4 linked regions of the Homo sapiens genome follow. The protein of the gene in region 1 purifies or fractionates together with the protein of each later gene. This does not show direct contact. Each region holds a gene or a part of one and is shown in the gene's direction. Other genes may lie near its edges. The genes, in order: MIER2, CDYL, AGAP3 and E2F6.

The links.
Region 2: the proteins of MIER2 (region 1) and CDYL purify together in Homo sapiens (affinity purification with mass spectrometry; 4 studies listed by BioGRID and IntAct, with this or other methods). This does not show direct contact.
Region 3: the proteins of MIER2 (region 1) and AGAP3 purify together in Homo sapiens (affinity purification with mass spectrometry; 3 studies listed by BioGRID and IntAct, with this or other methods). This does not show direct contact.
Region 4: the proteins of MIER2 (region 1) and E2F6 purify together in Homo sapiens (affinity purification with mass spectrometry; 3 studies listed by BioGRID and IntAct, with this or other methods). This does not show direct contact.

What each region holds. Positions count from the first base shown.
Region 1 is NC_000019.10:320,773-327,797, reverse strand, and holds part of MIER2 (mesoderm induction early response protein 2), read left to right. Parts: intron 1-541; coding exon 542-665; intron 666-1,199; coding exon 1,200-1,291; intron 1,292-2,093; coding exon 2,094-2,163; intron 2,164-7,025. UniProt on the Homo sapiens protein: Transcriptional repressor.
Region 2 is NC_000006.12:4,947,394-4,954,418, forward strand, and holds part of CDYL (chromodomain Y-like protein), read left to right. Parts: intron 1-4,872; coding exon 4,873-5,016; intron 5,017-6,504; coding exon 6,505-6,663; 3' UTR 6,664-7,025.
Region 3 is NC_000007.14:151,089,465-151,096,489, forward strand, and holds part of AGAP3 (arf-GAP with GTPase, ANK repeat and PH domain-containing protein 3), read left to right. Parts: exon of another isoform or gene 1-701; intron 702-7,025. UniProt on the Homo sapiens protein: GTPase-activating protein for the ADP ribosylation factor family. GTPase which may be involved in the degradation of expanded polyglutamine proteins through the ubiquitin-proteasome pathway.
Region 4 is NC_000002.12:11,456,147-11,463,171, reverse strand, and holds part of E2F6 (transcription factor E2F6), read left to right. Parts: intron 1-4,819; exon of another isoform or gene 4,820-4,879; coding exon of another isoform or gene 4,880-4,891; intron 4,892-5,938; coding exon 5,939-5,993; intron 5,994-7,025. UniProt on the Homo sapiens protein: Inhibitor of E2F-dependent transcription. Binds DNA cooperatively with DP proteins through the E2 recognition site, 5'-TTTC[CG]CGC-3'. Has a preference for the 5'-TTTCCCGC-3' E2F recognition site.

The sequences.
Region 1 (7,025 bases):
GCAGAGGGGAGTGTTCAGTGAGAGGAGGCACAAAGGCCCCCAGAATAAGTAGAATGTACCTGTGACCACTACCCTGGGGTTGGAATGGCCATGGGCATGGGGCTGGACCCTAGCCTTAACCCCAGGCCACATGTCATTCTGGCTTTGGTGGGTGGAGGGGCACATCGGGGCCTCCCCAGGACTGGTCTCTCTGCCATTCCGTACCCAGAGGTCACAGGTCAAGGCTTGGGTGTTGGGAGCAGGGGCGGGCTGCATTGTAGAAGGTTAAAACCAAATGCACAGTCAGAGAAAGAGCCATGCACTCCGGGCGTGTGCCCAGTGGCAGCTCTAACTGTCTCCAGCTCTGGTGGCTGGGTGTGGGCTCCCACGTGTCTCCTTCCCATCCCCGCTCCCCCCACGCTGTGCACCCTTTGCAGAATGGGAATAGCAGCCCCATGTGAGCCTCAGGGCACTCCCAGTGTCTTTACTGTTGTTATCATTAGTGGTATTGCGAGATTGTTAAACTGTAAAATGTTCTTTACTTTTTTTTTTTTTTTTAAAGGAACAAATAGCGAAGGATTTGCTTTCAGGGGAAGAAGAGGAAGAGACGCAATCATCTGCTGACGACCTCACCCCGTCCGTGACCTCCCACGAGGCCTCCGACCTCTTCCCTAACCGGAGTGGATGTAGGTGACTCTGTCCCCATACTCCACCGCAGCCAGGCCCCCTGCCAGGCAGTCGTGATGCTTGATGAAGGGTCCTTGGGCTGATGCAGGCCAAGAACTCATCACAGATGAGGGCGTCTGCCTGGCGGGAAGCGTCAGTAGCCCTGGGGGTGCTTTGTTCTCCTCCACGCTGGCCAGTGAGCCTGGACTCTCAGAGCGATTTGGTTTAAACAAGTAGGGAACATGTTGGTTCCCCTAGCAGATCCAGGGACAGCATTCCCAGAACCGGCCTCCTTCACAAGCCTCTGTGCTGGCTTTCCTGGGAACTGAGGGCTCGGGGCCCAGAGGTGCAGCAGCTGCATAGAAGGGAAGGCCTCTTTCTTCAAAGGTGCATCCCTGGTCCTGGGTCCTGTGCCCATCTGTTTACCCAATGTCTGGCCAGAGAGAGGGTTATGGCCTGGGGATCAGGTGGATGGAGAATGGGAGTGGAGAGAAGGGGTTGTATAGGCTGCAGGCAGTGGAGACCCTGGGGGACCTGCCTCTGTTTTCCCAAAGCTCGTTTCCTGGCTGATGAAGACAGAGAGCCTGGCTCTTCTGCCTCCTCCGACACCGAGGAGGACTCTCTTCCTGCCAACAAATGTAAGAAGGTACGTGGTTCTGCCATCTCCCCAACCTGGCATCCCGGCCGTGGTTCTGCCGTCTCCCCAACCTGGCATCCCGACCGTGGCTCTGCCGTCTCCCCAGCCTGGCATCCCGGCCGTGGCTCTGCCGTGTCCCCAACCTGGCATCCCGGCCGTGGCTCTGCCGTGTCCCCAACCTGGCATCCCGGCCGTGGCTCTGCCGTGTCCCCAACCTGGCATCCGGACTGTGGTTCTGCCGTCTCCCCAAACTGGCATCCCAACCGTGGCTCTGCTGTGTCCCCAACCTGGCATCCCGACCGTGGCTCTGCTGTGTCTCCAACCTGGCATCCCAGCCGTGGTTCTGCCGTGTCCCCAACCTGGCATCCCTCCCATGGCTCTGCCCTCTCCCCAACCTGGTATCTCGGCCTCAGTAACCGCAGCCGGGTCCTGCTGAGCCCTCTCCCTGGGTTTGTGCCCCTTCTCAGAGGAGGGACGTGCTGCTCGACCCCAGGGTGGGCTGGGACCGGCCACAGGTGCTTTGGACCGGAGCCTGGGCCCCTGCTGCTGACCCAGAGTGTTTGTCCTCCGACATCCTGTCTGGGCCTCTGCCAGGCCAGGCGTCAGGACACAGCCTCACCCCTCACACACCCAGGCCTCTGCCTCCCACCTTCAGACCCCAGAACTGGGCATCAGCAGGTAGACGGCACAGATGGGTCTGGGGTCTGGACAGTGGCCCCTCCCCGTAAGCCTGCCACAGCACGCTGCAGCCAGCCTCCCGCCCGGCCTAGATGCTCCTCAGTGTCCTGATTCCCAGGTGCTTGCTTTGCAGGAGATCATGGTGGGACCTCAGTTCCAAGCTGACCTCAGCAACCTGCACTTGAACCGGCACTGTGAGAAGAGTAAGTAGGGCCTGGGGAGAGGAGGCGAAACCCACTTCTGCAAGGGGAGTGGCCTGGCTGGACGTCAGATCCTTGGACAGTCTGGTCAGGTCCCCGCCCCGCATCGCTCACTGGGGCAGCTGAGCCTGTGGCTGGAGGAGGTGGGAGGCTCTCGTGGCTGCAGTGGGCCTATTGCTGCCTGCCCCTGCCCAGCTCTGTCCCTCCCTTGGGGTCTGCTCTGGTCAGCCTGTGCAGCCAGACCCTCAGCAGCCCGTCCTGCCTCTGACCCAGCCCTGCCCTGCCCTTGACTCCAGCCGCCTCCCCACAGCCTGGGCCGCTGCATTCGATGGCTCTGTGCCGGGTTAGATGGTTCTCCAGAGACCCGCCGGATGCTGCGCTGCACCCCCGGCCTTGCTCCGCTCCTCTTCAGGGTGCTCCCTTTCCTGGGCTTGACCTTCGTCTCTTTCCCACTAGAGTTCAAAATCGACCCTCTCTTGCCCCTTTGAGGCGTGGAGTCACGTGCCCATTGACTTGGGTCTCATTTGTGTTGCCCTGGAGCCCTTGCAGGCCCTGGGCCAGTGCTCCTAGCTCAGGAGCCTTCTCCAAGGTGATTCAGTGGCTGAGATGCGTGGTGGGAAGGGACAGGTGCAGCAGAAGTACTGAGTCCAGGGAGACAGGGACCCTCCGTGAAGAGAAGTCGTCCTCCTGGGGCTGGTCGGGGGTGCCCCGTGTGAGAAGAGGACGGAGCCAGGAAGGTGCAGCCAAGCTGCTGGGACATCCAGAAGGCAGGGTCGGAGGGGACACTTGGGACCCTCACCCAGAAACCCTGGCTTTGGAGTCTGTCATCAGGGCCCTTTCCCCACCCTGACTCACCCCCCATGAGGGTGCCCTGTCTGGAGCAGCCAGGACTTCTTCGTCCCATGGGATGCCAGCTGGCCCCTCCCACTCGGTATGACACCTGTGTCATTCGAGTCGTCTGCGTGGTTGTGTGTGTCCTGTGTATTGCATTGTGATGACGTCTGTGTCATTCGAGTCGTCTGCGTGGTTGTGTGTGTCTTGTGTATTGCATTGTGATGACGTCTGTGTCATTCGAGTCGTCTGTGTGGTTGTGTGTGTCTTTATTGCATTGTGATGACGTCTGTGTCCTTCGAGTCATCTGCGTGGTTGTGTGTGTCTTGTGTATTGCATTGTGATGACGTCTGTGTCATTCGAGTCGTCTGCGTGGTTGTGTGTGTCTTTATTGCATTGTGATGACGCCTGTGTCATTCGAGTCGTCTGTGTGGTTGTGTGTGTCCTGTGTATTGCATTGTGATGACGTCTGTGTCATTCGAGTTGTCTGCGTGGTTGTGTGTGTCTTGTGTATTGCATTGTGATGACACCTGTGTCATTCGAGTTGTCTGCGTGGTTGTGTGTGTCTTGTGTATTGCATTGTGATGACGTCTGTGTCATTCGAGTCGTCTGCGTGGTTGTGTGTGTCCTGTGTATTGCATTGTGATGACGCCTGTGTCATTCGAGTCGTCTGTGTGGTTGTGTCTTTATTGCATTGTGATGACGCCTATGTCCTTTGAGTCGTCTGCGTGGTTGTGTGTGTCTTGTGTATTGCATTGTGATGACGCCTGTGTCCTTCGAGTCGTCTGCGTGGTTGTGTGTGTCCTGTGTGTTGCATGGTGATGACGTCTGTGTCATTCGAGTCGTCTGTGTGGTTGTGTGTGTCTTTATTGCATTGTGATGACGCCTATGTCCTTCGAGTCGTCTGTGTGGTTGTGTGTGTCTTGTGTATTGCATTGTGATGACGCCTGTGTCATTCGAGTTGTCTGTGTGGTTTTGTGTGTCTTGTGTATTGCATTGTGATGACGTCTGTGTCATTCGAGTTGTCTGTGGTTGTGTGTGTCCTGTGTATTGCATTGTGATGACGTCTGTGTCGTTTGAGTTGTCTGTGTGGTTGCGTGTGTCTTGTGTATTGCATTGTGGTCCTTGGTTTGGATGCTGTGGTTTTTGAGTCTTGTGTGTTCCATTGTGGTCCTTGGTTTGGATGCCATGGTTGTGTGTGTCTTGTGTATTGCATGGTGATGATGTCTGTCATTTGAGTCATCTGCATGGTTGTGTGTGTATTGCATTGTGATGACGTCTGTGTCATTTGAGTCGTCTGTGTGGTTGTATCCTGTGTATTGCATTGTGATGATGCCTGTGTCATTCGAGTCGTCTGCATGGTTGTGTGTGTGTGTCCTGTGTATTGCATTGTGATGATGTCTGTTCTTTGAGTCATCTGTGTGGTTGTGTGTGTCTTTACTGCATTGTGATGATGTCTGTGTCATTCGAGTCGTCTGCGTGGTTGTATGTGTCTTGTGTATTGCGTTGTGGTCCTTGGTTTGGATGCCGTGGTTGTGTGTGTCTTGTGTATTGCATTATGATGACGACTGTATCATTCGAGTTGTCTGCGTGGTTGTGTGTGTCTTGTATATTGCATTGTGATGACGTCTGTGTCATTTGAGTCATCTGTGTGGTTGTGTCCTGTGTATTGCATTGTGATGACGCCTGTGTCATTCGAGTCGTCTGCGTGGTTGTGTGTGTCGTGTGTATTGCATTGTGATGACGTCTGTCATTTGAGTTGTCTGTGTGGTTGTGTGTGTCTTGTGTATTGCGTTGTGGTCCTTGGTTTGGATGCCATGGTTTTTGAGTCTCTTGTGTGTTCCATTGTGGTCCTTGGTTTGGATGCCGTGGTTGTGTGTGTCTTGTGTGTTGCATCGTGGTCCTTGGTTTGGATGCCACATTTACCCACCCTTTCTGCCATGGGCTGCGGTCATGGTTGGTTCAGCTGTGGGCTGTGAATGCCCTCGTGTGCGTCGTTAGTGGACATAGGCACTCGGCACTTGATGGACAGCGGGGAGTCGTGTGGGAGGTGTGTGCTTAGGGTGACGCATACTGCTTGAGTTTCTCACTAATGATTTGTGGGAGTTGCTCCACATTCTCGGTGTTTGCCACTGAGGGTGAATTTGCCTGAATTTTAGCCCGTCTGGTGGATATGGACTCCTGTCCCATTGTGGTTTTAATTGGCATTTCCCTGGTGAGCACCTTTCGCAGGTGTACTGGCCATTTGGATATTCTCTCTTTGCGTGCTCCAAGCTTTCTCCCATTTTGTTGTCTTTCCCTTTCTGATTTGTAGTCATTCACATTTTGTGGAAACAAGTCTTTCTGGGCTTTGTGCACTGCTGCTGTTTTCTCCAGTTTGTGGTTTGCCCATTGACTCTCTTAGTGATGTCTTTAATTTTAATAAAGTCCAACTTATCAATCATTATTTGAATAATAATGTGTGTGTGTGTTCTACTTAAGGAGTGTTTGCTTACCTCAGGCTCTTGGAGATATTCTTCCACGTTTCTTTCTAGAAGATTTATTGTTTTTCCTTTCACATTTAAGGCTGTGATCCAACTTAGTTTACATTTTGGTGTATGGTGGCTGGGCGTGGTGGCTCACACCTGTAATCCCAGCACTTTGGGAGGCCGAGGTGGGAGGATAACTTGAGGTCGGGAGATTGAGACCATCCTGGCTAACACGGTGAAACCCCGTCTCTACTAAAAATACAAAAATGAGCCAGGTGTGGTGGCGGGCACCTGTAGTCCCAGCTACTTGGGAGGCTGAGGCAGGAGAATGGCGTGAACCCGGGAGGCGGAGCTTGCAGTGAGCCGAGATCGCGCCACTGCACTCCAGCCTGGGTGACAGAGCGAGACTCTGTCTCAAAAATAAAAAATAAAAATAAAAATAAAAATAAAAACAACAAAAGTCCATTGTCTCCCCCACTGAGCTGCAGTGACGCCTTTGTGGTAAATCAGGTGCCTGTAAGGTGTGTCTTGTCTCACCCGGAGTCATCGCCACTGTCTCAGTTATTACAGGTTACAAGGAAGTCTGAGGTGGTGCAAGTCTTCTAACTTTGTAAGTTTTCATTGCATATCTATGTAAGTTTTAAGATTAAAACTTATTTTTTTCAGCAACTGACAAGTTTTAATCTTTTTTTTTTGAGATGGAGTCTTGCTCTGTTGCCCAGGCTGGAGTGCAGTGGCATAATCTCAGCTCACCACAACCTCCGCCTCCTGGATTCAAGCAGTTCTCCCACTCAGCCTCCCAAGTAACTGGGAGTACAGGCACCCGCCACCACGCCTGGCTCATTTTTGTATTTTTAGCGGAGATGGGGTTTCACCATGTTGGCCAAGCTGATCTCGAACTCCCAACCTCAGGTGATCCGCCTGCCTTGGCCTCCCAAAGTGCCGGGATTACAGGTGTGAGCCCCTGCGCCCGGCCCATAAATTGATTTTCAAACGTTAAGTTAACGGTGCACGGTGGAATAAACGTGCTTCCTGGCCATGAAGTGTTCTCTCTTGTGTGTATGTATCTCATGCACTCAGTCCTCATTATTTGTGGGTTCTGTGCTGGTGAATTGCCTACTTGGTAAAATTTATTTGAAACCGCAAATCAAAACTCGCAACACCTTTACGGTCAGGCGCCAGCAGATGTGTGTAGAGTGTCAGTGAAGGCGAGTTACCTGACGTACAGTTCCAGCTGAGGTGGGACAAGCTGCTGCTCTGTCTTGGCTCTCAGATCTTTTACTGTGAGCACGTGCCTTTCCTGCCGTGTACTGAATGCCGTTTTTCACATCCTTGTGCCTTGTGTCGGCTACTTGACGGATTAAAGTGGCCCCTAAATGTAGTGCCGACGTTCTGTCTGGTGTTCTTAGGTGGAAGAAGGCTATGATGTCCCTTTCAGAGAAAATTCGAGAAGCTCCACTCAGGCGCAAGCTCTGGGGCTGCTGGCCGTGAGTTCAGTGTTAGTGAATCCACAAGGCAGATCCAGTGAGACAGTGGCTCCCAACCTTTTTTGGCACCAGGGACTGG
Region 2 (7,025 bases), on another chromosome or scaffold:
CCTCCAGTGGCTGATTAACCTGGGTGGAGCTTGTCCACTCTTGCTGACAAGTCCAGGGGCTAAGGCCAAGTCTCAGCCCTCTCTGCCTCTTGCTCCCGGCTGCCCCTCTGCTTGCACCCATGTCCCTGCCCCTCACCTGTGAGAGTGTTAGCACGTGGACGGCTGCCTGTGCCAGGTACTGTGGCTTCTCCACCTGGCCTGTTGGGGGGTGGTCCCTCATTGCCAGCTGGGGAGCCGTGCAGTTTCTAAACCTCTCTCTTCACCCTCGGTCTGTCCACTCCCCTCGTCACAAGGTGGTTTCTCTGGAAGCTAAGATAGATTTGGGAAGCAGGGTCTGGTAGATTAGGTGCCAGCGTCCATGGAAGGGCAGAAAGGAAGCAGGATTGGGCAGAGCTGACTGACAGGGAGCTCTGGAACCACGTGGCCTCACGGCGGTTCCCGGTGCCCCACTGCAGTTGGCCGTGGGGTTGGCGGCCCTGGGAAGAGCGGTCCATGGGGGAGGCCCTGAGCTCTCTGTTGCCTGCTGACAGCACTTCCCACAGCAGGCAGTTTGCTGGGGTGGGGACGTGGGTGGCTTATCCAAGTCATTTGCTTTGTCCTTTACACCGTACTGCACGCACCTGACACCACCAGACTCCCATGGTAGAGTCATTATCAGTAAAATCAGTTCATCGTAGTGATTACTGTAAACGAGACTGTGTCCTGCCAGTTAACCCTGTCCCGGCAGGAAAGAATCCTCATCCTCTGGAACATCCCGTGAATCTCATTTTGAGTTATTTATCCAAAGGAGGTTGAGATCTGAGGTTCTGACCCCTCCCACTGTATGATCTATGTAGATGTGTGGTGTCGGTGCAGATGTGGGGCAAATACTAAACCACCTTGATGTTCAGACACATTTTGGCCAAAGACATTTTGGAAGTGGAGCCCTGGAGCTGAATGCTGCTCAGGGGTAGAGGTGTCAGAGTTCACCATTCCCAGAAAGGGCCATGAGGCTTGAAGTCATCACAGGACGAATGCCTGCCCTCTGGTCAGCCGTGTTTCTCCCTACTCTACAAGCCTTGGCAGATCTTTACTTTACGCTTCCCCTGGAGATGTACTGGTGCCTCTTGAGCTGCTGCTTTCAACTGGGCAGTTTTCACCCCCGACCTCACCCCTGGGGAACAATGTCTGGAGACAACTTGGTTGTCACACATGAGGAGATGGCCGTTAGCAGAGGCTGGGGTACTGCTCGGCACCCTCCATAGCCCACGGGACAGCCCTGCTTAGCACCCTGCATGTAGCCCCCACAGGACAGCCCCCACACCAAACAACAGTCCAGCCCAGAATGTCCCTAGTGTCCAGGGGGAGAAACCCTGCTCTAACTCAAGAGCGAAGAGCCTGCATTTCACTCGGCGTGAATTCTACACTTTCTGAGCAGAGTATCTGACGAAGCCTCTCTACAGAAAGTGAATAAACGTTGTTCAGATGACTTCGACAACTCTTGTTGAAAGTGACTATGCAGATGATGTAAATGATGTCGTTCCTTTCATGAGCCTTTGGTGTACTTGAGCTTTCAGCAGCCTGAGGCAAGACTGGACAAGTGTGGTTTTCCCCACTTTGCATGTGCAGAGCTCTGCCAGGAGGATAAGCTAAAGGAATCACATTATCAAGATAAAAAGAATATGCAAATAGTGCAGGCTGTGTGGCCTCTCCTTTCTTACAGCAGGCCCTCCGCTGTAGGCGAGGGCTACGTAAATCAGCCAAGGAGTCTCTTCCAGTTTAGCCTTCCTGGTGCCCAGTAGACATTCATGGAGTGCATGGAGGATGGCACGGTCTGACGCCCACAGGCTCCCACGTGGAAATCTTGCACCTCTCAGGGGCCTGCTGGGGTGTGAAGCTGGAGAATGCCCAGCGAGTACCTGAGGGCCTTACCCCACGCTCACACCTTGAGAGCCCTCTCTTGGGGACTTCAGAGACTGGCCTGAGGGAGCAGGTGGTAAAACCTCTGCCACAGCAGTCCCCATAAGGCTGAAGATTCCTGGATCCCCTCTGCTCATACTGGGCCAGTTTCCTCGCCACCCGTCCTGCTGTACTCTGGCCAAACTAAAAAGACATCTCTATTTAACTTTCCTCGGCATTTCCCATCTCTCTGGATGGTTCCAGGATAACTTTCTTTTAATAGTTGGACAACTTTGACCACATCATGGGGTGATGTAGGTTGTCTACAGGGAGTCCCTGTGCACTCAGCCATCTCAGAGCAACGTGCTAGCTGGTCAGGTTCCCACCGCCTGCATCTGTGTGAATCGGTTATTTGGGTAGAAGTTTGAAACCTCTCATTTTGAAACTACTGAAAATAGTGTGTTTATATAAGAATATGCTCACGCAAATTGCGTGTATTTAATCCTATAATACATATCTTACCAAGGGAGATTTGTTGTTGTTGTTTTCTTGGGTGACTGTCGTTCAAACCAACTCACTGGCCGTGTTTAAGTGAAAAAGCTTTAACAACCTAGCGTGAGCCCTGTCATTTTTGCTCTTGAGTAAATTGAGAAATGCCCTTGCTTGTCCTGCACATCCAACCACCTGGAATGGAGAACACCGAAGGTAGGGAAAGGATCTCCAGGGATGAGCAGGCCTGGAGCCGGCGGGGCTGTGGAGGAAGACCGGCCGCAATGAGTGAGTGCTGAGCAGAGAGAAGGGCCGTTCTCGGCTGGTATCAGGCCCAAGAGAGTCAACAAAGGGGGGACGAAAGGGAGACAGGGAAGAGAACAGTGGTGGGGCTGTAAGTTGACCTCCAGGTGGCAGAAAATAAAGTTGGAAGAATTGACTGGGACAGACAGCCAGGGCCCTGCAGGAAGGGCGGGAGAGGAAGCCTGCGGACACCTGCCCTTTGTGATTGAACCGCAGACACCAGGCCTGGCGGGGTCGCTTGCCTCCGCTGCCCAAGCTAAGGCTCCACTAAGCTGGTCCTGAGAACATACTTCATGCTCAACTTCAGGGATGTGGCTGTAGTGTCCTCACTCTATGCTGAGAATGAAAGAAGCACAGTCTATGAAAGGAAAACCCCGACAGCACAGAGCACTTCGTGCGGCAGCAGCACACCGGGAGTCCCACTCCCTTTCCTGCTGCGTTTGGATCTGCCGTGACAAGGACTATCAGAACCACTCACAGTAAGGTCGGGTCGCGTTTCTAAATCCACTGTTTATGGACCGTCTTTTCACTGAGAAGAAGCTCGTCAGTTCAGGGGTTTCTAGAACTTCTCCAGACTCTTCAAAAACTCATGACTTTCTCCAAGTTGGTAATCCCAGCACTTTGGGAGGCCCAGGCGGGCGGATCACGAGGTCAGGAGATCGAGACCATCCTGGCTAACACAGTGAAACCCCGTCTCTACCAAAAAATACAAAAAAAAATTAGCCGGGCGTGGTGGCGGGCGCCTGTAGTCCCAGCTACTCACGAGGCTGAGGCAGGAGAATGGTGTGAGCCTGGGAGGCGGAGCTTGCAGTGAGCCGATATTGCACCACTGCACTCCAGCCTGGGCGACAGAAGGAGACTCCGTCTCAAAAAAAAAAAAAAAAACTTGCAAACCCTCATGAGGAGCCTGTCCCCAGCCCTGTTTTCCAGCCTCTGCCTGCATGGGAGGGGCAGTGAGTCAGCCACGTGTTTGCTTTGCCGCCTCTGCCTGTGTGCTCTCCAAGCTGCGGGTTTCACATGCAGTAAACGGCATCAAGACATTGACAGAAGGTGTATGGGCAGTCTTACACTGTCTCAGCGACTTCAGGGCCAAAACTGTCTTTTGTGATTTTGCCTCTTTTGGAAGTGGAAGCCACCTACCGAAATTGTGTTTTACCAGAGCCCCAGGAGCTCATAGTCAAGGCTTTGTGACATCAGAGTTGTTAGGAAGGTTAACCGGGCAAGATAAACGACAGACCAAAAATTGTCCCCTCAGGCCAGTGTGGAGTTTCTTTATCAGACATGTGTGCACCCCTTCCCGCCTTATCTCGGCATCTGTGAGCCTGTCATTTGAATGATGTAAAATCCATACATGTTGTACTGAGACCTTAAAAGTGATCTAGTTCAGTGTCATGTATTAAAAAATAAAGTGATCTAGAATCCAGGACAAGGTTAAAATTAATTTCATATATACACATATATATTCTTTTAAAGAAAACCTAATGTTAGCTTTCTCCACTGAGCCGTGTGAGGTGACTGTAGCCAGCCCCTCAAGCAGATTACGGTCATTTTTCGCCACATTCAAGCCCTGGATAGTTCTGTCTTTTCGTATCCAAGCGATACAAGGCAGCCTCCAAGGTACGCTCTAGCAGAAACGGTCGCTGCCATTAGAATATTTTTTCTGTATATTAAAAACAAGTCACCATTGGCCTCCCAGATAAAGAAAAGGTTTGGTAGGAATTCTGTGCCTGGTTCAAATCCTTAAAATTATAAATTGCCTAACTTTGCATATGCTGATTTTCCCAGGATTGTTTTGTGTATTAAAAGAGCTCACACGTGGGAAGGGCCGGCATTAGGGGGAGGAAGGCAGATGAGAGGAGAGGAAGCTATACCAGTAACTTTTTAAACGAATGGCAAAAAGACCTTTTCTATTTTAGATTTCTTTATTGAGTCCCTGTAATTCTGTAGTAGGTTGTAAAATAAGACACTTTTTGCTTTCCTTTTTAAGAAAAAAATCATCAGCCCGATAGATTACTTTCCCACCTGCCCAATGGACTGCACCTTGCACAGGGTCTGTTCCCAGCGGCCCCTAGAGGATGTGCCCCATTTCCCTGCGGGGCTGGTATTTGTGAATGTTTCCCTTCGGTGTGGATTTTAAGGGATGGGTCTTCCCCGCCCGCCTCCCACCGCAATTCATATTACATCCACTCTTCTTCCTTGCAGGCAAACGAGATGCTGCTCAGTGGACGGAAGCTGACAGCGCAGGAGGCGTGTGGCAAGGGCCTGGTCTCCCAGGTGTTTTGGCCCGGGACGTTCACTCAGGAAGTGATGGTTCGCATTAAGGAGCTTGCCTCGTGCAATCCAGTTGTATGTCTAATTGCTTCTGTTACACGTTACTTTTTAAAAAATAGAAACTTTTCCCTCAGAGAGCTCACAAATTTGCAATTATTCCTAAGTCCTTTACGTTTGTCCTCAACAGAGCACCTTCCCGTGAAGTCCTGCCAGAACCTATTGCCGCCACTGCCCCCACGCACGCCTTGCCTTCCCTTTGCAAATACCCAGGAACCACAGAAATGGACTTCAGTCTGAAATGTCAGCAAGTTAGCAAATGTCCTATGAAAGTCAACAACAACTAACATGGATATAATTCTTTACTGGTTCCAAAGCCTTTCAGTCACATTATTAGCTTCTCCCCTGTTTCCCCACAGTGGGCCTAAGTTGTTTTTGGGTTGTTGTTGTTTGTGAGATGGAGTCTCACTCTGTCGCTCAGGCTTGAGTGCAGTGGTGGAATCTTGGCTCACTGCAACCTCAACCTCCCGGGTTCAAGTGATGCTTGTGCTTCAGCCTCCCGAGTAGCTGGGACTACAGGCATGCGCCACCATGCCTGGGTTATTTTTGTATTTTCAGTAGACACGGAGTCTCACCACGTTGGCCAGGCTGGTCTCGAACTCCTGACCTCAAGTTGATCCACCCACCTCAGCCTCCCAAAGTGCTGGAATTACAGGCATGAGCCACTGTGCCCGGCCTCCTAAGTTTTTGTTTAATAAATGTGCTAAATAGGCCGGGCACAGTGGCTCACGCCTATAATCCCAGCACTTTGGGAGGCCGAGGAGGGCAGATCACTTGAGGTCAGGAGTTGGAGACCAGCCTGGCCAACATGGCAAAACCCCGTCTGTACTAAAAATCCAAAAGTTAGCCAGGCTTGGTGGTGCACGCCTGTAATCCCAACTACTCGAGAGGCTGAGGTGAGAGAATCGCTTGAACCCGGGAGGCGGAGATTGCAGTGAGCGGAGATCCCGCCACTGCTGTCCAGCCTGGGCAACAAAGCAAGACCCTGTGTCAAAAAAAAAACCACAAATAATTTTTTTTTAAAATATGCTTGTAACAAAATTGCATTTGGCAAATTATAGGATGTGAAATGTATAATATTAACTGACACGACTCCCATCCCAGGCAGACAAGCAACCCTCATTATGAAAATTACATTTTGTTTAGAAAAATTCCCTCAACAGGCATCCCCAGAGCTTTCTGGGCATCAGCAGAGCAGACGTCCAGTTCGGGGGTCCACGCCAGTATGCGGCAGTGGCGCGGGGCCGAGGCTGCTCACAGGCTGGGTGCCGACAGCCCAGCTCTCCTTTGAAATAAGCCGTTTTGAAGTTAAGAATGCACCCAGTGCCAAGTGTGAAATGTGCTTTATACATATGTTAGGCCCGACATATTGTGAGAAAATGTCTGGTAACCTTTTTAACAGGTGATTGCTGGAATTTGATGATTGCCTCCGTAAATGTGGAGGCACAGGGGACCCGTGTCTGCCCGCATGCACCCTGCTAACTGGCTGCTTGTTTTCCGGTGCAGGTGCTTGAGGAATCCAAAGCCCTCGTGCGCTGCAACATGAAGATGGAGCTGGAGCAGGCCAACGAGAGGGAGTGTGAGGTGCTGAAGAAAATCTGGGGCTCGGCCCAGGGGATGGACTCCATGTTAAAGTACTTGCAGAGGAAGATCGATGAGTTCTGAGTGTCGGGCTGCCCACTGGTGACACCGGGATCGGGCTGAGCAGGAGAACATCACCGGCTCCAGTTCCCCTGATCCATTCTCACAGCCTGAAACAAGCTCACCCGTAGCTTACGCTTGGAAGCAGGACTGGGAACATCCACGCTATTTATTATCGAGGAGTTTTAAAGTACTGTAACTTTAAAATAAATAACTACAAAGCTTCTTTGTCCAAACGTCATTATTTTATACTTATATACACGCAGGTGTAAAAGTATAAAGGTGAGCACTAGACTGCTCTTAGAAGCTCTAATTTTTGTTTTCTTTGGCTAGTACTGTATAAAAAACAGAATTGTGTTTTATTGGTTTTGGATGACAGAAAAGTC
Region 3 (7,025 bases), on another chromosome or scaffold:
GGCAGTTCCGAGTGTATAACAAAGCCTCCCTCACTCTGTTTAGACTTCGGTGAAGGGTTTGTTTGTCCCAGCTCTGAAGGTGACGTGGGACCTGCGGTCAGGATCCATCTGGCTCTGAGGAAGTGCAGTGGGCACTTGGGCCTCCTGTAGTCTCTGCCACTCACAGTCACTTCTGACCCCGTGTCCAGGACAGGAGGAAGCAGGGGATGTTTGGCTTTCCTGTGTTTCAGGACAGGATTTGAGGAGAGGGAGACCATTTTGAAAAGTTCCTTTCCCACCAGAGGCCAAGGAAAGAGAAAACCTGCCCATTACTTGGCCTTAGGGAGTGGAAGAAGTACAGCCTTCAGCTGGGAGGGAGAGCTGGAGGGCTCACTATGTGCAGAGCCTCTGAGCCACCTTCACCTCACTAGTGGGGAAACTGAGGCTCAGAGAAGGGAGGGAGCCAAGCGGATACAGCCAGGGAGAGTATAGGCCTTCAACAGGAGCCCGCTTCCGGCTTGGCACTCACCTGCAGTGAGCGCTCCCTGACAGCTTGGGTTTCCTGGCTGAGTCCTAGAAAGAGGGATGCAGGAGAACGAGGGCCTCAGTCCAAATGGGGACACTGGGCACGTGGAGCGCAGGATGTTGTACCAAGCTAGCCAGGAGCCCCAAAGGAGCCCGGGATCTTTCCAGGACCTGCTGGTCCCAGTCGTTGTGTGCAGGTGAGGGCCCGGCACAGGGGAGGAGCAGGGGCTTGGGGAGGGCCTGGGATCCCTGCTGGCAGTTCCCAGATGGGGGGGGGGGGCTCCCGCCTGGAAGTGGAAGTGGACCTGACTATTAGGTGTGTGTGCCATATGGCTACTATTATGTGTGCCGGAGCTGGGCTTTGTCAGCTGGGTGACTTACTCAGGTTTCTCCATCGTTTTCCCACTAGGGCTTTTTTTTTTTTTTTTTTTTTTTTTAAACAGTTACTTCGAGCATTCCAGCCGGCCTGGCCTGGCCAGCAGAGCGTTCTCACTGTCACCCTTACCCCACTCACTTTCATTCAGTTCACAGATTGCCTGCCCTGGGCTGTGGGCTTGGTGACATCCTAAAGGGACTAAGGTAAAGAGATGTGGGGGTTTCTTGTTTGGGTCAAGCCTCAGCTAGACAGAGAAGGGGCCACAGCTGTGACTGCAGTTGGGTGGCAGCTCAGAGGGAGAGTAAGACGGTGCATGTGGCCGGGTACAGTGGCTCACGCCTGTAATCCCAACATTTTGGGAGACCAAGGCGGGCGGATCACGAGGTCAGGAGATCGAGACCATCCTGGTTAACATGGTGAAACCCCCGTCTCTACTAAAAATACGAAAAATTAGCCGGGCGTGGTGGCGGGCACCTGTAGTCCCAGCTACTCGGGAGGCTGAGGCAGGAGAATGGTGTGAATCTGGGAGGCAGAGCTTGCAGTGAGCTGAGATCGCACCACTGCACTCCAGCCTGGGCAACAGAGCAAGACTCCGTCTCAAAAAAAAACAAAAACAAAACAAAACAAAACGGCATACGCCCTGGCATCCCACAGCCCTCAGCCCTTAGGCACACCTGGGGTTTTAGTGTTTGTGTCTGTTTCTGTTCGTCCTGTGACTTGATCCTGGAGGACTGGCATGATGGTCCCCATGTTTGTGCCAGGGTGCTCTCTTGAGCTTTCCTTACTGTTCCTGGGTGGGCACTCCCTGGCCGGGCCCTGCATTCCGCCGTGGGCCCTGCTGCACCACACACTGCTGAGGTTCCCTTCAAAGATGAGGACTGGGGGGGTCTGGGATGGGTGCCGGGGACATGCATCTGGAGCCAGCCCAGGCCCCTCTGGCAATTCGTTGGTTTAGGGACTGAGTGTCTCATGGGGGCCTGGTTGCTTATGCAGGACTTTGCTCGCAAGAGTTCTAGCAATTCTGAAAAAGAGCATAACCATGTGGGTGCTAGTAGCCAGGGAAAGCTTCATTTGTTCCAGATACATTCATTTAGCTCCTACTGTGCGGCCCAGTTGCATCTAGCACAGTGAAAAGCAGACAATCAAAGGAGAGACAGGGAGCGAAGGGGCCAGAAGGTCTGGGCTTGGTGCACCTGGAGAGAACGACTCAGCCTGTAGGAGGTGCCAGAGAGGCACTGGGAGTCCAGAAGGAGACCTAGATTTTCAGAAGACCAGGGCAGGGCAAAGGTCAGAGACTTGGGAAACCTCATCACGACTTCTTTCTTCCGGGTCAGAAGCCAGAACAGGAAGACCTGTCCAGCCTGATCTCAGGCTGCATGGCCTCGTGGGAACCCCTGGTACCCTGCTCCATCCAGGGTCTCAGCTCTGGCTCTCCCCAGCAGTGGTACCCCACAGATGAAGCAGTCCTTGTCCCTATGATGCCACCTGGCAATCTTCCTGTATCATTTATTTCTTTCCTCAAACGTGTGCCAGGCCTGGGGGTCCGGAGGATTCCCACATAGAGGAAACAGGATGATGAAGATAACGGAGGCAGGAGAACATAGTGTGGCTCTCGGAACGGCAAGTTGGACTCTGCAGCTCGGGTGTTGAGTTGTAGGAGATGGGTGGGTGAGGTGGGCAGGACCCTGGTGAAGGAGTATTTCATGCTTTCTCCAGTATTTATTTCCACCCTGCCGTGTTCCTAGAAACCGCAGGAGTTGGTGCGTCATTCTGCGAAAGATGGGCGTCACAAGCGTTTAAGCCTTTGAGAAGGCTTGAGCCACGCCAGCATCCACACCGCTCGTTTGTGCTTGTGAGCCCCCTACCAGCTGTCAGTGCGTCCCTGGCCCAGAAGTGGAGGGAACGAGGTACGCTTCTTGGAAAGCAGGTGTAGCCTGGGAGAGCCAAGGCTGGGGGGAGACAGACACCCCCGTAAGAACTCCCATGTCCGTGTGTGGCATTGCCTAAACATCCACCTGTTGTGTTAGTTTCTTTTTAATATGCAGGTAACTGGAAATTAGTTTAATCTGATGCTTTCCTCCTGACCCCTAGCTGACTTAAACCATTGCAGGCCAAGTGGTAAGGGAGCTTATTTTGGAGCGCAGAGTTGAGGTAGGGAAGGGGGGTGAGCCCAGCCACGTGCTTTGAGGGCGCAGAGATTGGGTGGTGCATGTTCCACCCGTGAATGTTCTTCCCTCTGCCAGGCTCACTGCTGGGGGTTGGAATGAGGCTTTGCAACACTTTGCATCTCATAGTTTATTTTCCCAGAGGAGGGTCTTTTTTGGATTTGCAAGTATTTCCATTTCACAAGTGAGACAGCCTAGGACCTAGATTAAGTAACTTTCCTGAAGCCACGCAGTGAGGGGAGGAAGCAGGGATTTTCTCTGGTTCTCCAACTCCAGGTCTCTGTGGTTTGCCTTGCATGTATGGGCTGAATAAGTGTTGTTGGCCACACCACATCAGCCCTTAAAAGCTGCTTCTACAGGAAACTTTATGGGAGTCAAATGGACCAGAGTTTAACTCTTGGAAGCCTTTAGAATATAATTTTAGGGTGAATTAGGCCTCCTGCTCCCTACTATAATTTTCTTCTGCTCCCCACTATAATTTTCTTCTGGACGTCTTCAATCCCCAACTGAATTGAATGGTGGCTCTCTGAGGCGTCTGTCTCCCATGGGTAGCACGGATGTAGCGTACAATAGACAGATGCTTGCTCAAGAAACATATATATGTATGTATGTATTATATGTATGTATATGTGTGTGTATATATATTTTTGGAGACAGGGTCTCCCTCTGTTGTCCAGGCTGCAGTGCAGTGGTGCAGTCCTAGCTCACTGTAGCCTCAAAATCTTGGGCTCAAGCGATCTTCCACCTCAGTCTCCCAGGTAGCAGAGACTGCAAATATGCACCAGCACACCCAGCTAATTTTTTCATTCTTTGTAGAGATGGGGTCTTGCTATGTTGTTTGGCCTGGTCTTGAACTCCTGGACTCAAGCAATTTTTCCACCTCGGCCTCCCAAGGTGCTGGGATTACAGGCATGAGCCACCACGTCCGTGCCCAAATATGTATTTAATTTAAATTTCATTTTAATGTGTTTAAGGGATGAAAGTAAATACATGCTTGTTACAAGCCATTCAAATGTAGAAGTAGGAAGGTGGCTGCCCGGCCTCCCCTCTCCTGGGAGGATCTGTGGTGAGCAGTCGGATGTGCATCCTTCTGGTCTTTTTTCTATTAACGACTCTTTGCTGGATTTGCTGTTACTAGGCTTTCGCAGCAAACGTGGGATTGTTGTGGAAAATGCTTTGCTGGGAGAAGGGGAGCCGGAGATTCACAAAAGGAGGCTCCCGTGTTCATTTGCGTATTTGGCAGCTCCTAGGCTGGGAGTCAGGATACCTGGGTTCCCGTCCCTGCTCTGCCACTAACTGGCTGTGAGAGCTGGGGCAAGTCTGCTCTGGGTGCGTCTTCTGAGAGTCACATTCTGGTTGTCTATGCAGCTAGGGGTGACCCTGGCGTGAGTATCTGGAACAGGCCAGGCTTGGCTCCCTGGCCGGGGGTCTTGTCTGTCAAGTGAGCACCTGAGCTGGGGTCCCTGAGATCTGTTCTGAGGCTGCCTCTGTCATGCAGCACTTTGAGATGCGCCCCCCTTGGAGCCCTCCAGGAGCTGAGAATCAGAAGAGATCCTGTGGGGAGAGGTGAGATTTTCTGTACCTCTGTTTCCTTACCTGAGGTGGGTCATAACAAAGCTCTGCCGCTTGGTAGTGCTGAGGATTGAGACCCCCAACGCGGTGTGCTTAGAACAGTGCCTAGCGTGTCATAAGCACAGGTGAAATATCAGGCATTATTCTGAAAGGCGGCAGGGTATCCTGTGTAAGGGAATGCTGTTTATTACGTGCCGCCTTGTACGCTTGTCTCGTTATTGCTTTTGGACAAATTTTCAGAAGAAAATGGTCAGACTCTGGGGTCGGCACATTTTTAGGACGTTTGCGGCACTCTGGCACCCTGCCCTCCAGAAAGGCCATTTGATTTTCAGGCATAGAGACAGCCTGGAGTTCCCTGCCCCACTTCCCCGGCACCCCTTCTTCATCTGATACGTAAGAAAAAAAAAAAAAAGACTAAATGACTCTCGTTGTTTTACTTTGTTTGACTTTGATTACTAGTTGATCACTAGCTATTTCATTATTGGATTCACTTTGACTATTAGTGAGAGTTGATATTAAAACATTTTTGAGAGGTCATTTGCATTTTGTTCATTCTGTACATATCCTTTATTCATTTTACTTTTGGTTTGTTCCTCTTTTTCTTTTTTCTTTTTGTAAAAATGGGGTCTCACTATGTTGCCCAGGCTGGCTGTAAACTCCTGGCCTCGAGTGATCTTCCCGTCTCACCTCCCAAAGTGCTGGCATTTCAGGTGTGAGCCACCATGCCTGGCCTCCCCTCCCTTCCTCCCTCCCTTCCCTCCTTCCCTCTGTCCCTCCCTTCCTCCCTTCCTCCCTTCCTTCCTTCCTTCCTTCCTCAGAATATTGGTCTGTCACCCAGACTGGAGTGTAGTGACGCGATCGTAGCTCACTGCAACTTCAAATTCCTAAGCTCAAGCAATCCTCCCACCTCAGCCTCTTGAGTAGCTGGGACTCAGGCATGTGTCACCACATCTGGCTAATAATTTTTAAAATTGTCTTGTAGAGTCAGGGTCTGTGTTGCCCAGGCTGGTCTCAAACTCTTGGCCTCAAGTGATGCTCCTGCCTCCACCTCCCAATGTTACTTTTTCTTATTGAGCTGAAGACCGTTTTAATCTCTTTTAATGTAGGTTTTTCTACAACGTACATTTCTCTGTTTGCTGCAAGTCAGGCACTGTCTGAGTTCCCATAGTCAGCACTTCGGCCTCAATGTGCCCTGAGCTGAGCAGACAGTGCCATCCTCTGGGCCACCCAGGAGGCTGAGGCTGGCTGTGCCCGCTCCATACCGTAGCCCCAGATGGCTGTACCTTAGGGCTTTGTGCCTGTTCCTTTTCTGCCAGAACCCCTCCTTACCGCCGTAGGGGTGCCTGCCTACAGCAGCTTCCCTTTAGCCTTTTCAGTTTGGTGTTTTGATGGCTTGCAAACCTGAAACCCCAGCGCCTGGAGTGGGATCAAAGCCTGTCACAGGGGCAGAGGGAGGACCGAAAAGTCTAGACCCCTCCAGGGATCTCTGCTCTGCTTCTGCTGGGATCCCCACCCCTTCCTGGGCCTGGGTTTTTCCAGGCACTGGTGGATGGCACTTCTGTGCCTGGAGGAGGTTTTGGTTAAAGATGCTCTAAATGTCTTGTCCAATCACAGTTGTACAAAAAAAAAAAAAAAAAAAAAAAAAAGATACCAGAAAGGCAAGCCCCAGAGCCTTTGTTTGAGAAGAGTTGGGACGTTTTGGAGGCTTTCCATCACTCTGAGGCAGCACCCCCTGCCCCCCTGCCACCCCATTATTACTTCTAGATTGTTCTGGATGGTTCTATATTGGGTGATGTGGAATGAAGCCTGGCCTTCATTTCTTCTCTCAGGGCCTGAATAGAATAGAGGTTAAGCACCTGGGCTCTGGAGCCAGGCTGCCTAGATTTGAGTCCCAGACCTACCACTTGGGAGCTGTGTGACCTCGGGTGAGTTCCTTAACCCCTCTGTGTCTTAGCTTCGCCATTGGTAAAACATGGGCATCCGTTTCATGGTGTGGGCGTGAGAAGCAAATCAGTTAACGTCTGCAGAGCTTTTAGAGCAGCAGCTGCCCTGAGGATGTGCGTGCTGGGTGGCGACTGTCTCATTACTTGTCTCAGAGGCTCAGCTGTCATCACCGCCTGCGTGGGGATGCGTGAGGTGAGGGCTGCATGAGATCACAGGAATGACCATTTCCGGACCCGAGCCTGAGAGCCCAGGTGGCAGAGTGTGGGGTACGTTGGTTTAGCTCATCCAGGCCCAGGGGAAGGGACCTGAGGGGGCAGGGCTGTCACAGGGCCTGCACGTTCCCGTGAACACCCAGGGTCATCTTTGATGTTTTGCCTGTTGTTTTTTTCTCTGATTCAGCACTGTGCAGTAGACATGGGCGAGTCACACGTGTGAACTTAAATTTTCTTTTCTTTTTTTTTTTT
Region 4 (7,025 bases), on another chromosome or scaffold:
TGAGGGTCAGCTGTATATTGGTACCATCTGTATTGGTGGTCTTAATATTTGAGAACGTGATAAAAACTCTAAGCTCACTGTGGAAAAACCACTTAGTTTGCATGTAGTATCAGCAGATACATCCCTTGAAATCTTAGACATACAGTTCTGGTATTTTCAGTTACCATGTCATAATTCCCAAATCTATAAATCTCCTTCAGGGTTTTCCAGCTGTCTACTAGACCTTCCTACTTAGGTTTCAAACTCCTATTAGTCCCCTCTCATCTGAGGTTTCACTTTTCTTTATTTCAGTTAACCTGTGGTCCCCCAAACTATTAAAATGAAAATTCCAGAAATAATTCATTAGTTTTAAACTGCTTGCCATTCTCAGTAGTGTCATGAAATCTTGAGCTGTCCAGTACCACCCAGCACCTGAATCTTCCTTTGTCCAGAGTTCCCATGCTGTCACTGCGCCCTGCCCTTAGTCGCTTAGTAGCTGTTTCTTGATTCTCAGACCAACTGTCACGGTGCTTGTGTTAAGTAGCCCTTATTTTCTCAGTAATGGCCCCAAAGCACAAAAGTAGTGCTTCCAGTATGCTTCCAGTAGTGCTTCCAGTATGCTGAAGAGAATTGATGAAGTGCTTCCTTTAAGTGAAAAGATCTAAGTTCTTGACTTAGTAAGGAAAGAAAAAAAATCTTATTCTGAGGTCGCTAAGATCTACAGTATAAGATATTTTGAGAGAGAGACCACATTCACATAACTTTCATTGTAGTTTATTGCTATAATTGTTGTATTTTATTATTAGCTGTTAATCTCTTACTATGCCCGATCTATAAATTAAATGTTATCACATGTATGTATGTATACGAAAAAATAGTATATATAGAGATTGGTACTGTTTGCGGTTTTAGGCATCCACTGGGGGTCTTGGAATGTAGCTCCCAGGGATAAGGGTGGACTACTCTATATCCAGAATTGAATTTATTACTCTATTGGTCAGGGCTCTCCAGAGAGACAGACCAATACTAACACAGATTTTGGTACCAGGAATGGTTCTGGGAAACAGAATATTAAAGATGAGTTTCCTTAATTGGGGTTTTTGGAATTGATTCTTTAATCTGATTAGAATCTAAAAATGCCAAGAGCTCTACTTCTAATAGTAGAGAGAGCACTGGAAGTCCATGACACAAACTGTTTATAGATATGCAAAATAAATGCCTTTTTATTCTAATTCACTGCTTATAAGAGGCAAAGAATTTAGTGACGCTATATGTGATATTTTCAAATATTTTTGGGAAAACAAGGATTATAATGACATTGGTTGGTTGCTCCTATTGTCTTTGGACAAAGTGATGAAAGAAAAGGATGAGCTCAGGGATTCAGTTTCATGGCTGGAGTTCCACATAAATGACCTAAAAGTTTCTAAGTGTGCCCTGGGTTAGAATCTTCTATCCTGTAGCCATGGGGCTGAAATTGCTGAAAATCAAACACAAGCCTTCATCATGTAACTGGCCAAATTACAATGGAAGTTGAACTCTTGGCCAGTCATGGTGGCTCATGCCTGTAATCCCAGCACTTCGGGAGGCTGAGGCGGGTGGATCACCTGAGGTCCGGATTTCGAGACCAGCCTGGCTAATGTGGTGAAACCCCGTTTCTACTAAAAATACAAAAAATTAGCCAGGCTTGGTGACGTGCGCCTGTAATCCCAGCTACTCGGGAGGCTGAGGCAGAAGAATCACTTGAACCCAGGAGGTGGAGGTTGCAGTGAGCCGAGATTGTGCCACTGCACTCCAGCTTGGGCAACAAGAGTGAAACTCCATCACAAAAATAAATAAATAAATAAAATAGAAAGTTGAACTCTCTTAGCCTCACAGAGCATCTACTGTTAAAGTGAGGGTATTGGTTGGGAAAGAGTGGGGTCCTGCAAGTTTGGATGGGATCATGTGGGAAGATGAGGCTGGACACATTGAGCCCCTAAATTCTGATGAGTCTTGTTTGCCAGAGGGGCAGTAGCATTTCCACCTACAGTGGTATCATCCTTTCCACCCCTGTCTAAGGGGATTAATTCTGCATTGCCTGTGGAGATAGTAATGGCCTCCTCTGAAACAGTTCCCGGACAAGACAGTGCTGATTCTCATCAGGACCCACCCCGCCACCCCTCTTTGCTTCTAGACCTATTACTAGACCCAAGTCCCAGCAGACCCCTAAAGGTGAGGTGCAAAGTATGACTCACTCCACTTCTGGTACCAAATCTGTATTAGGTTTCTGGTCCTGTAAGATTATAGTGGAGCTGAAAAATTTCTATCACCTGGTGACATTGTAGCCATCATAATGGTCATAGCACCAAACATTACCTTTTCTATGTTTAGATGCACAAATACCATTCTGTTAGTTACCGTTATCTACAGTATTCAGTCAGTCACATGCTCTACAGGTTTGTGGCCTAGCAGCAATAGGCTATACTGTATAGCCTAGGTGTGTAGTGGGCTGTACCATCTAGGTTTGTTTAAGCACTCTATGATGTTCACGCAACAAAATCGCCTAATGACGATTCTGAGAAGATGCATGATTGCATGTAGATATATGAGAGGGAATTTATTAGGGAAATTGGCTCATGATTTTGGAGGCTGAGAAGCCCCACAATAGGCTGGCTGCAAGCTGGAGACCTTGGGATGCTGGTAGCATGGCTCAGTCCAAGTCCATAGCATGAGAACCTGGGAGGCTGCTAGTGTAACTCCTAGAGTCCAAAGGCCAGAGAATCTGAAGTTGTTGTCCAAGGACAAACGGGAAAGAGGGTCCCAGAGGATCTGGACTTCTGAGAAGGGAGAAAATAGCATTGATTGGAGGTAGAACTTGGTCTGCATAATTGAAAAATAAGGAAAATTTGAATGGGTGAGAATGCAATAACCTTTCCAAAGACCTCTTGAAGGAATATTGCTCCCCAAAACAGAATTGGTGTAGAGAAACATCTGTATAGAGAAAGGTTTAACCAGCTTGGAGGCAGTGCTTAGCATTTTAGTCCCTAAACTTCATCTTTTATTTTTTTTTCCACCTTTGAAGCAGCTCTTCAAAGCTACACAATAAAGTATAGGTCTTTAAATAGGGGACTTGGAGCAGTGGTGAAATAGCTTGGAATTTGAAAAAATATGCTGACTTGCCCCAGAAGATGCTGGTTCCTAGAGAGCTGTATACTCTGTCAGGGCACAAGATCAGCCTGAGTGATTTTCATTTTGTAAGCCTCTGACTTCTCCATTCATTTTGCAGCTAGCATGCAAACAATCTGCCTATTTATCATCTTTTTTTTTTTTGAGACGGAGTCTCGCACCGTCATCTGGGCTGGAGTGCAATGGCACGATCTCAGCTCACTGCAACCCCTGCCTCCCGGGTTCAAGCGATTCTCCTGCCTCAGCCTCCCAAGTAGCTTTTATTACAGGTGCCCACCACCACCCCCAGCTAATTTTTTGTATTTTTAGTAGAGACGGGGATTTCACTATGTTGGCCAGGCTGGTCTTGAACTCCTGACCTTGTGATCTCCTCCCCCCACCCCGCCTCCCAAAGTCCTGGGATTACAGGCATGAGCCACCGCGCCTGGACTTATGTTTCTATCTATATGTCTGTATATGATGTCTGCCACTGAGGGGCAATGGTACTGTTGTGATTCCTCCAAGATAGAGTGTTTTTGTATTTGAAGAGGAAAAAAAAACAAATGAATGCTCTTGGAGACTGTTTTCCCACATACATCAGTATAGCCAATATGTAATGGAACTGCATTGATAGCAAAGAGTGGGGAAAACAAAGCCATCTTTTTTCATATTATGCCTAACTGAGGTGTTATTTCTGTACCAACCTGTGATCCACTGTCTAGATGAGATGGGTAGGGAGGTGTGTAGCAGAGAAGACACCCTAGAATGCATAGCTAGCGAGGCAGCCTCTTTGGGAGCCAGTAAGTAGAGTGTGTAAGTCCTGGGCCTGCTACTCTGAATTAAGAACGGGAACCTCTGCAGCAAGGCCCCTCTGAGCTTATATATAAGGATTTAGGATGTTTGTTTATGTGTGTTTCAAATCAATGTGATAAGGATGGATTTTTTTTTTTTCCATTCAAGAATCTTGCTACCGTAGCTGGCCCGTCTCATACTATTAGCAGAGGGGTTAAATGTAAAAATAGCAATGGCAGTTGGTCACACTTGTCTAATGTCTGACTTTGATAGGACTGCTTCAGAGTTTCACTGTTGGATACCATGTTTGCAAGTCACCATTGTCAGCACTGTTTGAGAGAGCTGGCCAGACCTAGTCCCTACCCCCAAGGCCAGCATTCCCAGCTCCAGTGTTGCATGCCCTAGCAGGTCTACGTGTTCAATTCTAACAACTAAATTAATTTTACAGTGGGATTCTGTCTCAATGGGAGTATTCCATATTGGGGTGATTTGTTAATAGATGCTATCATCTTGTCATAGATGATAAGGAAATCATTGTGCCGAGGATATTGTTAACACCAGTATAAACAAAGAGCTTCTTAACTGCTCACCTTGCCTTCAGGCTTCCTCATTTCCCAGTCCTTTTGCCATATTGCTGCCATACTTATATTTCTAAACCATTTACTTAATTATGTCCTAGTCTGGTTCAGAAACCTTTGGTGATTCTCTACTGGTTATGACATAAAGTCCAAACTCTTTAGCATTAGTTTTATGTGGTGCCAGCATGCCCTCCCAGCTTCAAAGTCAAGTCACTTACACACTGGCCACTTCAGTGGGTTCCCAGAAACATGCCATGCCATATACATCTTCACACCTTTGTTCATTTCCGGTACCACAATCCTGTCTTTTTTCTTCTCTCCCCACAGTTGTTTATTCAGGCAAATCTGGCTTGCTGGGCTAGGCTCAGCTGAGGGCTGCCTTCGCCATGAATCCTTCTGTGAGTTCCCTGTCTGGGTGTATCCCTAGTACTGCTGTTGATTCTCTTCTTAGAGTACCTATGAATTCACTTGCCCCAGTTTTGCTTTATGGCCAGTTTTTTCTTAGATAAGAGCTAAACCTGATGACAGCCTGTCTGGAGGCACATTAACATTGATGTTACTAGGAGTTTCTGTTCATAGGCTTTCATTTTAAGGTTTGGTTTCATTTTATTTATTTTTTACAGAAAAACAGTTTCTAAATGTTACTACCAGTTTTATGCAAACTTTCAGAGCCTCTAAATAGCTGGTAAAATGGTGAGCATTGATAATGGAGCTTCTACTAATTTCCTGGTTGTTTCAGGAATTTAAAAGAAACTTTTTATCTAACGCAAAAGTTTCTAGTTACCCACAGCATGCATTGTTTTCCATTGTTAGAAATGCTGCTGTTTTTACATTAATTATAATGGGAATGCATAGCTGCCTATGAAAGCTTGTGAGCAAATTTTGGGGAACCACGTGTACTTAATAATAGCAAGGAGTGAGCATGTGTTGGTTGAGATAGATCTTCTATCTCTACTAAGCTTTCCCAAGTCAGGGACAGTGTTGTAATGATCGTACCTGATGTATTCAGTATATTTTGTGTGTGTGTGCATGTTTTTTTGTTTTGTTTTGTTTTTTGAGACGGAGTCTTGCTGTGTTGCCCAGGCTGGAGTGCAGTGGCATGATCTTGGCTCACTGCAACCTCCACCTCCTAGATTCAAGCGATTCTCTTGCCACAGCCTCCCAAGTAGCTGGGACTACAGGTGCCTGCCACCACGCCCGGCTAATTTTTGTATTTTTAGTCGAGATGGGGTTTCACCATGTTGGCCAGGCTGGTCTCGAACTCCTCACCTCAGTGATGCACCTGCCTCGGCCTCCCAAAGTGCTGGGATTACAGGCGTGAGCCTCTGCCCAGCCAGTAATTATCATATTCATATTCCCAGACCTTTATACTATTGAGTAAAATGCTATTTGTTTGCATTGTTGTTTTAAAATCACTAAGTTAAATTTTTTATCTTTTTTTTCAGCCATCAAAAATAAGGATTAATTTAGAAGATAATGTACAATATGTGTCCATGAGAAGTAAGTTGATTCCTGAATAGGTTTTAGGTTTTGTTAGTTTGAACTTCTTATGATTAAAATGATTTGTTTAAGTGTATGAGTTGATGAGAAACTGAAATACAATTTGTTATGTGTACACTGAAATGTAAAGTTGCAAGTTTTAGTAACAACTCCTGAGGTTATGGGTTGAATCATGTGCACAAATGCCAGTTTATTCTCCATAGAACAGTCTGTATTTAAGGCTATTTTCTCAGAATTCCTCCTGGGAGAGAAATGTACTCTTTCCTTCTTGTCCCTTATCTTAGGTTAATGTTTAGGGTATCTGTTAGAGGCGATAGGATGTAAATGGCTCTAGTTCCCTCTTCTGGAAGTTTCCATGATAGACCGCCCCACCTCAGCTTCCTAATCTCAGTGGATACATAGTGCATCGATAAGTCAGTGTGAATCTTAGAAATACTCACCCTTAGTTTTGCCTCAGTGCCTGCCCCAGTCTCACCCATAGTTGGTCACTGAGTTTGGTCAGCTTCACCTTTGATGTGTTTCTTGCATCTGTCCCATACCACCAATTTATAATAATATCTAACATTTATTGAGCTCATACAGTGCCTGGCACTGCATTAAGCTCTCTGCATGGATTGTCACAATGACCTTTCAAAATATAGGTATGGATTAGAATTCTTACTTTATAAAGGCCCAGAGAGGCTGAGGTGAGTTGCTCAGAGTCAGGGTTGAATCTCTTACCTCTCTGACGCAAGAGCCCAGAGTCTTTACCACAACGTTGAATTGCTTCTTCTCGTTCAGGGTCTAACTTCCTCTGTAGCTGAAGTTGCTGGGTCTCCTTCTTAGAAGGCAGTCAGCTTCCAGGCTTTCCAACCTGGATGCTGGAAAAATCCAGGGGGATTTGTCTAATACAGAAATTGGATTATGATATCATTCAACCTAAGTTCTTCAGTGACGCTCTTTTACATGTAGAGAAAACCCTGATTCCTTGTATATTTGATTTTAAGTGTTTGCATTAAATTCATAAGCCACTTCATATTAAAAGAAACAAGG